3 linked regions of the Homo sapiens genome follow. The protein of the gene in region 1 purifies or fractionates together with the protein of each later gene. This does not show direct contact. Each region holds a gene or a part of one and is shown in the gene's direction. Other genes may lie near its edges.

The links.
Region 2: the proteins of PLAA (region 1) and PARP6 fractionate together in Homo sapiens (co-fractionation; one large-scale study listed by BioGRID). This does not show direct contact.
Region 3: the proteins of PLAA (region 1) and XPNPEP1 fractionate together in Homo sapiens (co-fractionation; one large-scale study listed by BioGRID). This does not show direct contact.

The regions. Positions count from the first base shown.
Region 1 is NC_000009.12:26,923,164-26,926,816, reverse strand, and holds part of PLAA (phospholipase A-2-activating protein), read left to right. Parts: intron 1-256; coding exon 257-424; intron 425-856; coding exon 857-992; intron 993-3,469; coding exon 3,470-3,639; intron 3,640-3,653. UniProt on the Homo sapiens protein: Plays a role in protein ubiquitination, sorting and degradation through its association with VCP. Involved in ubiquitin-mediated membrane proteins trafficking to late endosomes in an ESCRT-dependent manner, and hence plays a role in synaptic vesicle recycling.
Region 2 is NC_000015.10:72,262,504-72,266,156, reverse strand, and holds part of PARP6 (protein mono-ADP-ribosyltransferase PARP6), read left to right. Parts: intron 1-165; coding exon 166-260; intron 261-683; coding exon 684-744; exon of another isoform or gene 745-887; intron 888-985; coding exon 986-1,076; intron 1,077-1,535; coding exon 1,536-1,602; intron 1,603-3,653. UniProt on the Homo sapiens protein: Mono-ADP-ribosyltransferase that mediates mono-ADP-ribosylation of target proteins.
Region 3 is NC_000010.11:109,888,922-109,892,574, reverse strand, and holds part of XPNPEP1 (xaa-Pro aminopeptidase 1), read left to right. Parts: intron 1-748; coding exon 749-853; intron 854-3,653. UniProt on the Homo sapiens protein: Metalloaminopeptidase that catalyzes the removal of a penultimate prolyl residue from the N-termini of peptides, such as Arg-Pro-Pro. Contributes to the degradation of bradykinin.

The DNA.
Region 1 (3,653 bases):
CAAAATACTATTTCTGGAGGTTTTTGGAGAAGGTAGGATGAATGTAAAATAACTTCTGAAGACTGGTGATAAAAAAATATTGCTAAACCTTAAATACAAATTTTGGTTATCAGGCTTTCAACAAAAAAAAAGATTTCTCTAACTTGAAAATTAATTTTTACTACTCACTGATATGTTTTATAATGTTAGTAAAATGTATAGAGCCATCAGCCAAATTATCAGTTTTATTGATTTGCATTATTGTTTTTTAATGCAGGGCATGAAGACTGTGTAAGAGGTTTGGCAATTTTGAGTGAAACAGAATTTCTTTCCTGTGCAAATGATGCTAGTATTAGAAGGTGGCAAATCACTGGCGAGTGTCTTGAAGTATATTATGGACATACAAATTATATTTATAGCATATCCGTTTTTCCAAATTGTAGAGGTAAGATTATTTTATGCTATTTATTTAATGTTTTGTATTGAGCATTATTCCATCCCATTTGTGAGATGGAGGGAGGAGAGCTGATTACTTAATTTACTATCTATGACTTGAATAATTTAGTAAATTTATTTCATTAAGTATCTTTCTCCTGTTTACAAAGAAGAAAATTGTATGGCCATCTTTATATTAATTCAGATTTATGTTGTGCTGTAAAAAGTTCTTGGGTATCTGAAGAAACACTTTGTAAGATGTGACATGAATAAAAAATGTGATTTTGAAGTTGTATATGTTGTAAGTGACAAACATATGAAATTTAAAACTGTAATTTTGAAAGTCTCTGGGTTTCAAAAAGTCAGTGTATCTAGAAAGATGGTATGTATAAATGTACTTAATTTTATTCAAACTAATACTTCCTATATTCATTAATTTTAGACTTTGTGACAACAGCAGAGGACAGATCTCTGAGAATCTGGAAACATGGGGAATGTGCTCAAACTATCCGACTTCCAGCTCAGTCTATATGGTGCTGCTGTGTGCTCGACAATGGTGACATTGTGGTTGGTGCGAGGTATTTATATTCTAGTCAATCATTAAATGTTATATGTCTAGGCCTTCAGTAGGAACTAGAGTGTACAGAGATAAGCCATAAGGAATTTCACGTGACTTGAGGAGACTATATGGACACTTCAATTACTAAACAAAACAGTAGTAGATATTATAGCTTTCATACTAAGGGATGCATGATATACCAGTATTGTACTGCAATTGTGCAGTCAATGATGCATGATATACCAGTATTGTACTGCAATTGTGCAGTCAAGATATTGACTACAAAAGAAGTTAGAGAAGGTAGAGATTGGTGTGGGAAAACTTTCTGTAGAAGAAGAAATTTGAACTGGATTTTGAAAGATTATGAGTGAGAAAAGATACGCAAATTTTTGTCAAAGCTAAGAGTATAAGTTTCCTTCATGAGAATGAATGCAGCATGCATAGGAAGTGAAGGAAAATGGTGGAGTACTAATGCTGAGATAATAGGTACAATGGGGCTTAACTGTGGAGAACCTTTAGTGCTTTCATGCCAGGCATTTTTTAGATTCATTGCCTGGGGTTGAAGGGTTGTAGTTCTTGAGCAAGAAATAGGATTGAAGCAGAACTTATGAATTACTAAATATGTAGATTGGATTTAACTGCTGGTGACAATGGACAGGAAAGTAAATTAGAAAGCAAGTACAGAAGGAGTGTGAAGTTATAAGACATTGGCCCCACAATGCTAATGGGTAGGAAATAAGTAAATGAGATAATCCAGAAGGAAAACAATCAGAAAAAGTATGAAAGAAAAGGATAAAGCTTCAAACTGTTAGTGATTGGAAATCTTCATTAATAAAAATGGAGAAGTGGGAGAATTGGTTGGGTACAGAAGGTGATGACCGTGGCCTTAGACTTCCTGAGGTCTGCAGTGGTGGTGAGCCACACTCATGCCAGTGGATCATGGTCATTTGAACTGGAGCTTAGTATAAGAACTGAGGCTAAGATAAAGATTTCGCAAAGCTTCCAAAAGCAAAGCATAGAACACCATTCTCTGAGGGAAGAAATACAGGGGAGGAACAGAAGACTAAGAACTAAGTTTTATGATATACCATTAGTAGAGAAAAAGAAGTTAGTAGGTTAAACAGAACAAAGGAATTCAAATGTTGAAATTTCTGGGAGACAGAAAAGGAGAGATTTTGGAGGGAGATTGTCATCAGTGTCAAAAGTGTTTGAGGAGTCAAAGAATGGAAAGTTTGAAAAGCATTTGGATTTGGTTTGAAAGATGTTATTAGTGACTTTTGGCATCAATCACATTTTGAATAGAAAATGATAGAAAAAAAGGCAAATAAGAGGAAATAAAGGGTTGGAGGAGATGGACGAAGGATCATAGACTACTCTATAATGCTACTCTAGCATTGAAAGCAATAAGAAGGCCAGCTGCTGTGGCTCACACTTGTAATCCCAGCACTTTGGTAGGTCCAGGTGGGAGGATCGCTTGAGCTCAGGAGTTCGAGACTATCCTGGGTGAGCTACCGAGACCCTGTCTCCATACAAAAAAAATATTTAATTAGCTGGGCATGGTGGCATGCATTTGTAGTCCCAGCTGCTCAGGAGACTGAGGTGGGAGGATTGCTTGGGCCCGGGAATTTGAGGTTGCAGTGAGCTGTGATTGCCGCCCCTGCACTCCAGCCTAGGTGACAGAGTTGGACCCTGTCTCAAAGAAAAAGAGAAGAAAAAGAAGGTGACAGCTATAAGGGATAGAGGGTCTAATAAAGTGGGTGTTTTATTTTTTGGCTGGGACAGAGGCTGATTTATAGGCTTAGTTTTTTTCCCTCCTAAGCATATGAAGAAAAACCAATAGAACGAGTGATGTACATGTTTGTGGACGAATAAGTTAGAAACAGGTTTCCTGTAGAATGGGCCAGGATTAATACAGTTGGAAGTGTCTAATTTGCTTCTCCTATCTCAGAATTTCGAATTAAGAAATCATGGAGATAAAGTAATTTTTCTGAGAAAAGAGGTTAAGGACGGCCATCTAATCCAAACATTAGGCCATTTTTTTTCCTTGATTGAAGTTACATTGCTAGTTACTGGCATAGTAAAGGATGACCATATTTGTCTACTGAACATCTGCTAATTTTAAGCCCTACATTGGGTCTTTGAGCCCTTTATAAACTAAACTAGCCCACTACCCTTCTCTATATGGTAATAACTAAAAAATATTGACTTTAAAAGTACATACTATAGCTCTAGATTCTTATGATGGTAAATATTTAACTTGGAAATTGTATAAAATACATGTTTCTCTGTTCTTTGTCAATAACTTCTCTATTAAATAGTTGACATAATAGAGTAGCATGTGCTGAAGTCAGCACAGTGCTGTAATCAGCAATTAATAACATGCTAATATTTCTCATATTCACAAACACAGATTATTTTTACTATGGATCATTCAGGTGTGATAATGTTAATGTATTATGGCAATGACTTCTAAAATCAGTTTATTTTTCCTTACAGTGATGGCATTATTAGAGTGTTTACAGAATCAGAAGATCGAACAGCAAGTGCTGAAGAAATCAAGGCTTTTGAAAAAGAACTGTCTCACGCAACCATTGATTCTAAAACTGGCGATTTAGGGGACATCAATGCTGAGCAGCTTCCTGGGAGGGAACATCTTAATGAACCTGGTAAGTATTTTATT
Region 2 (3,653 bases), on another chromosome or scaffold:
CTAGGGTCACCACTGAGAACCCCTTCACATAAGTGGCTTTTACTTCCCCTATACTGCTGTCTGATTTCTCCTGTTCCTGGTGTCTTTTCATATTCTTTTTATTATCTCTCTCTTTCCCTCGTCTTTTTCCACCTCTCTCCACCACCATTTTTGCTGCTATCTCAGGGGAGCTGTGCAGCTGACCTGTATCGACACCCACAGCTTGATGCAGACATTGAAGCCGTGAAGGAGATCTACAGTGAGAACTCTGTATCCATCAGGTGGGACTCTACTTCAGGGGTGGCAGGGGAGCAAGTCACTTCTTTCTGAGTTGTTAAAAGGCTAGAGGTTTTTCTTTTTATGGTATGATAGTGGGATAAATTATGAACTTAATGATAGAAAATGCTCAGAATAAATGAGCTTGGCTGAGAGTAGAGAGTAAGGCCACTTTTCTTAGGAATTCCCTCTTATCCTAGACCCCTCTGGGCCAGTAGTTTCACCTTTCAGGTAAGAAATGCTTTTGGCCTGGAAGTAGATCCTGATCAGGTAAGTGGTGTAAGGCTATAGCTAAGACCCTAGGTACAAAACTGTCATCCACTCTTCCCTTTCCCCTGTCCCCAGGCTCAGTTCTCTTTCCAACTCAGTTTCTATTCCCTTCTTTCTCCCTTAATGAGTCTCACCTGTTGTCACCTGTATCTCTATAGAGAATATGGAACTATCGATGACGTGGACATTGACCTCCACATCAACATCAGCTTCCTCGATGTAAGTGGGGCTAGTACCTGCCAACAACATGTCTAGCTGGACTTGTGGAATTTGTCATGTAGGCCAGGAGTCTTGTTCCCGAGTGCTGTATTTGGAGCACATATTCTTCATCTCTGTCTTTCCTAGACCATCAGCAGACAGTGGTGTGTACTGTCATGTGCATGTGTGTGTCATATAGGGGAAATTTCAGGTCCATTCGTCTATGTTGCTAAACTGGAAACTATTTCCCTTCTTCTTTTAGGAGGAAGTCTCTACAGCCTGGAAGGTCCTCCGGACAGAACCTATTGTGTTGAGGCTGCGATTTTCTCTCTCCCAGTACCTAGATGGACCAGGTAAAGGCAGTGACTTTGGGCAAGTGGGTGGTCTGAGTGTGGTCTAATCCAAAGCCCTAAGTTAACTGAGGTAGAAAAAAATTAGGAACAAGGTCCTTGGGCTCAATCTGCAGGCTATTGGTAGGGGCTTTTTAGTCCCCTGTAATTGGTATCTTCATCCCCTGTCACCTAATAACCATTCCCTAAAGGCCTTCTTGCCTAATGACATTGTTTTCTCTGGTTCCAAGATAAAATTTCTTTCTCCTCCTTTTCTCAACATCCTCCTGAGGATATTTCAGATTCATATGACAGCTTCGAGAATCTGCCCTCTCCCTCAGATGTTTTTTTTCTTCCACCGTTACTGTTTAGAGTACCCAGCAGCTATGATCTTTAGAATGTATGGAAGCTATTCCACTGAGCTTTGGACTCCAGGAAGACAAGAGATATGTACTTACTAGTAGCCTTCTCTTCTCTTTGCAGAACCATCCATTGAGGTTTTCCAGCCATCAAATAAGGAAGGATTTGGGCTGGGTCTTCAGTTGAAAAAGTAAGAACTTTGGTCTTTTCTGGTCATGGACATGTGAAGGAAGGAGAGAGAGGTGGAAATATATGGATGGACAGGCAGAGCCTTGGATGGAATGCCCCCTTCCAAAAATGTCTTTCTGAAATATGCCCAGGAAAAGCTAAAATAAATTTAGGGAGCCAGATTTAAGCTTGTGGAGAGAGAGTATGTGGTTCTTGGGTGTCAGAAGCTGAGACTTTCTAGAGATAAAAGAGGCTCATCACTACTTAGCATTTTTACTACCCTGAAATCAGAGTCATGCTATTCATATTTCTCTAGTGGTTTCTTCAGAGTAAGTCTCTAGGAACTCTAGTTTATTGAATGTGTTGAGCATTAAGCTAGGTATTTGGTATGCAAAGAAATGAAGCATATTTTCCACTCTCAGTGAAGTTTCAAATAGAGTCCACTGGATACATATTCTAATACAGGTGAATATGTAAGGTTTAGAAAGGACACTGAAGAGTGACTCAGTCTGTTGAAAGGGTGATGATTAATAATTTCCTTTTTTTTTTTTTTTTGGAGACAGAGTCTTGCTCTCACCCAGGCTGGAGTGCAGTGGCATGATCTTGGCTCACTGCAACTTCTGCCTCCTGAGTTCAAGTGATTCCTGTGCCTCAGCCTCCTAAGTAGCTGGGATTACAGTCACCCACCACCATGCCCGGCTAATTTTTGTATTTTTAGTAGAGATGGGGGTTTCTCCATGTTGGCCAGGTTGGTCCCAAACTCCTGGCCTCAAGTGATCCACCTGCCTCAGCCTCCCAAAGTGCTGAGATTACAGGTGTGAGCCACCGCACCCAGCCAATGATTAGTAATTTTCAAGGATGGATAAGAGTTGTCCATGTAGACAGATTCTGAGGGTGAATAACATTTGCAGGGGCTTAGTCACATAAAGCAGTATATGTGTAGGGAGCTTCAGGTAGTTAAATATTGCTGGTAAAATACAAGCTGGGGGTGTAGGAGCCAAAGCCAGAGAATAGGGAAGGGTTCAAGTTAGAGAGGATCTTGGACTTTTATCCTTTAGGCAGTGTGAACATTGAAGGGTTTAGGGAAAGAAATGACGTGGTCAGATTTATTTTTAAAAACCATTCTGGTAGCATTATACAAAATGGGTAGGAGGGGATGAGACAAGAGACCAGAACTAGTGTAGTAGGGTGCTTTTGTAAAAGTCAAGACAAGAGATGCTAAAGGCCAGAGCTAAAGTGTGATTATAGGTGAGAATGGAGATGAGAGACAGATTAGAAAGATTTGTGAGATATAAAATCAATAAGACTTGAAGACTGATTTAGATATATTGAATATAGCCATAAGGGCCAAAGAGTAGTGGAAAATACATTTAGGTTTCCAGCCTAGATGTCTGGGTAAATTGTGATACCACCAATGTAAATAGGGATATGAGAGGGGAGCAGGTTTGTAGGATGATGATAGGTAATTAGTTCCATTTTTGACATGTTATTTAAAGGTAACTTTCAGATATGCAGGTAGAGATGCTTATCCGAAATGTCAATTTGCTACTTACCAGAGTATATGTCAATTTGCTACTTAAAGGAGAGGTTAGGGTTGAAGATATGCATCAATGTGTGTGGGAAGAAGTTACAGTCAGTGAATATGAGATTGCCAAAGGAAGGCATGATAGTGGGAAAAGAAGATAGGATCAAGGACAAAATACCCTTAAACACTCAGATGAAATCCCAAAGAAACCAGCAGGGTAGGCAGAGGAAGAAGAAACACTGCAGGTAGGTCAGAGTAGAATAGGAAGATAATGGTGGCACAGAAGACAAAGGAGGGCAGGTTCTGCAAGGAGGGCCAGATGCCAGAGAAGATAAGAGAAGAACCTGGGAGTTTCCATCGGATTTAGCATCAGGATGAGAACAATTATAGTGGTGAAGGTAGGAACCAGAATACAGAAAGTTTGGAGGTGAGTGGTTGGCAACAACATAGAAACAATGAGTATGGGTTGAGAAATTTGTATGGGGATGGGAAGGCAACAGGGAGAGGTTAACTAGACTAAGGTGCAGAAAGTTGACATCTTTTGTTGA
Region 3 (3,653 bases), on another chromosome or scaffold:
TAAATAACAAAGGTTAACTCTAAGCTGCATTGGTGTTCCTCAAAACCATTATGCCTTTGAGTTTTAGGGTGGACTCCCCACTTCAGGTTTGTTCTCTAAAGCAAGCTGGACAAGGTGGGAGCTCCCCTCCCCTCATGGTTAGCATGCTGCTTCCTTTGGCGTAAGTGCTTGTGTTGGTTGGCGCATTAGGATTGGCTTTGGCTGACACCTCTGCCAAAACCCCAAGTTCTGCCAGGCCTGTGGGAACGGAGGGCAGATAAAGGTAGGAGGCATAAGCTTCCTGCTAGTGACCACAGCAGGAACACTCATAGGGCCCACTTGGTCTTTCTCCAGGAAAGGTGAAACAGCTCCCCTGGGGTGTCTGGTGGAGCAGAGGAGTGGCTGTAATTGCTGAGCAGGAACCATCCCTCCCTGTGTCTTGTTGATTATACGAGACCACTTTGGCCATAGGTCTACAGTTCTCCATTCTCTGTTCTTGACTCATACTGTGCAAGTGGAGTCCTTTTTGTGCAGGGACCAGTGCCAGGTAGCTTGGGTCTCAGGACTGTTCTTTCAGAGCTTGACACACAGCTTGTTTTCAGTAGTGTGGTCTTCTCTTGCCCAGAGGTTTCTTTGGAGTCAAGGACCCATCTGCCCCACTAGGAGCTGATGCCTCTTACTGCTCTTGCCTGTCTACTGTCATTTTGTGCAGCTTCTGAGCAGTTGTTAGAAACCTTTCTTCTTCTTTTTTTTTTCTCCCCTGCTTCAGGCACAGCCATCATCACAGAAGAGCATGCAGCCATGTGGACTGACGGGCGCTACTTTCTCCAGGCTGCCAAGCAAATGGACAGCAACTGGACACTTATGAAGATGGGTGGGTACAGGCATGGCTAGCCCAAACTTAGTTGGCCTGATCTGGGCAGGGATCCTAGAGGTCCTCAGGACTCCTGGATCTTAATCCTTTTATGCAGTCATGGACCCTTTTGAGAATCCAAGGAAAACTGAGAAAAAAAAAAATGGCATGCCTATACATACGTACCAATGTGCATTCAATTTTGGAGGACGCTGGTTCAGGATACTTATTTTACTGAGGGGAAACTGAGGGCTAGAGAGGACAGTTGATTTGCTGCAGATCACATTGCTGTGCATTTCACTCCTGTACTGGGGGCCTTCTACTATTTGCTGCCTCATGATTCAGAGTGAGATAAAGGCAAGGAGTCATTGGCAACAGAAGCCAGAAAGCTTTCCCCTGAGGCTCTCTCTGAGGATCTTGGATTTGCTTCTGGAAGCTTAGCTCTGGAGAAGAGCAGCATTCAGGACAAGCGAACAGGTCTGGAACTTGCTTGGGCTAGTCGCTTCACTTGAGTGCTTTAGTTTCCTCATCTGTAAAATGGGTTAATCACAGTAAGTAACATATAAAGTGGTGAGAATTAAAGCATTACTATGTGGAAAGCATATAGATCAATGTTTATTGAATAATGTGTGTATATACTCTGTGTTTTCATTTAATTTTCTGCCGTGTGTACTTTCCTGTCATTAAAATAGTCTTTAGAAACACGGTTTTAGGGACTGTACAAAGTCTTTGCTTCCTGAATTTTGAACTTGGAGAACAGAAGATAAGGAAGGGCCAAGTGAGAAAGAGAAGATGAAACAAAATACCTGATGCTTCTTGTTTGTTGTAGGAAATAATGAGGAAAGAAAATAGTCCTCAGACTCACAGCAGGAAACAGAGGACTAGACCATGACCTTGAGATCCAGGCAGCCAGCTGACTGAGGGGTGTGTGCACTCAGGTGTATGCCACACACCCTCCACATACACACACATGTGTTCTTTGTCTTAGGGAGGAACAAGGAACATTTTTGTCTTGGCATTGGATTAAGTTTCTATTTCTCAAAAATCATTTCATAAATATAAAAACACCAAAGCTACAGATTGTTGCCTGTTGCTGCAGTTGATTTCTCTTTCCCTTTCTCTCTCTCTCTCTCTCTCTCTCTCTCTCTCACACACACACACACACACACACACACACACACACACACACACAAAGGCAGGCATTTGAAGCTGGCTGTTATAAATGGACAAGCTAGTGGCCTTTAAATTTTTTTGTTTGTGTGCTTCTGTTAATGGGAGTCAAGCACCCGCAACATGTATGTATGTTTGTTTATTTGTTATTTATATGTGCTAGTGTTCCTCTATATTCCAAATATCAAAAACTAACTTTGTAATTTCTTTATAAAAAATAAATACAAATAGAAGCTCTGTTACTTTCTTCTTGCACCCAGTAGATCATTGTGTCCCCCTGGGGAGCAGGCATCTCTCTTTGGGGCCCACGGATTCCAGCTCTTAAGTCTGTTAGCATTTTGGGGGTCAGAGGCGCAAACACTGCCTGCCTGTTCCTTAATGTAGGTATGTGGCAGCAAGGGGGTGGCAGAGGGAGTGAGTCCTCCTCTCCTCCAGGCTCCTTCCTAGTTTCCTCAGTCGAGTCTTCTGTGTAGGGAGATTCTGGTGGGTTTGGTTGGCCAGTGAGTGATTCATCCCTGGGGTTTTGCCGAAGATCTGTCTGCTAGGAAATGACATGACTTCATCCTGTGAAAGTTATATTATGTAGTGTACTAGGGCATTAGGAGAAACTGTATTAATAAGTGGCTTGTTTAGTGGTTTGAAAAAAAATAGGAAAGAATCAAATAGCAGAATGAAACTCAATGTCAGCTTCTAGGCAGTTTTTTAGAATTGGAATTCATGAGCTTCTTTCTTTATAAACCTTTGCACTTCCCTTCTATGGTTATGTGGTTGTATCAGTAGTCAGTAGAGAAAATAGTAAAGATAAGTTTCTACTGTTTTAGAATATGTGAACTTTTACTCTAAATATATGTATATTTTATCAAGATGTTAATTGTTTGGCCAAAACCTCATTGGTTAAAAAAAGTATACATTTCAAAGATAACTGGCTAGATATGGAAGGTGTTGGCTTAGATTAAAGGAAAACTGGACTATAGAAGTAATTTTAGTTCTATTCTGGAGGCTGATATAGTGTCCTATGACTAGCGTCTTAGAAACAGAAAGGGCTGTCTCATCCTGGGAGTTGGGGAACCCAGAGGCTCATGTTAAAGGCAACAGGATGGCCAGCACTTTGGGAGGCTGAGGTGGGAGGATCACTTGAGGCCAGGAGTTCAAGACCAACCTGGCTAACATGGTGAAACCCCGTCTTTACTAAAAATACAGAATTAACTGGGCATGGTAATTTTGAGCCTGTAATCCCAGCTACTTGGGAGGCTGAGGCAGGAGAATTGCTTGAATCCAGGTGGTGGAGGTTGCAGTGAGCTGAGATGGTGCCACCGCACTCTAGCCTGCATAACAGAGTGAGACTCTGTCTTCAGAAGTAAATAAATAAATAAAGACAACCGGACAGGTGCCTGTGTGCCTCTCTTAAAATCTTCGGAAAGATCTCTTTGCTGCCAAGACTTGTGCTTAGCCCTCTATTCAGAGGCTGGTTATGGGGCAGCGGCCTTCTCTTGGCCACCCTGCCCTTGCAGATGAGGGGCGGGCACTGGGAGCATGTTATCACCTTACCTGGTATGTGATATGTGGGAGTCTCCCAGTTCCCAGACTTCACCAAATCACTGCCCAAATTCTCATCAAGTGACCAGTAGTGGGGAAGTGACTGAACGCTGAG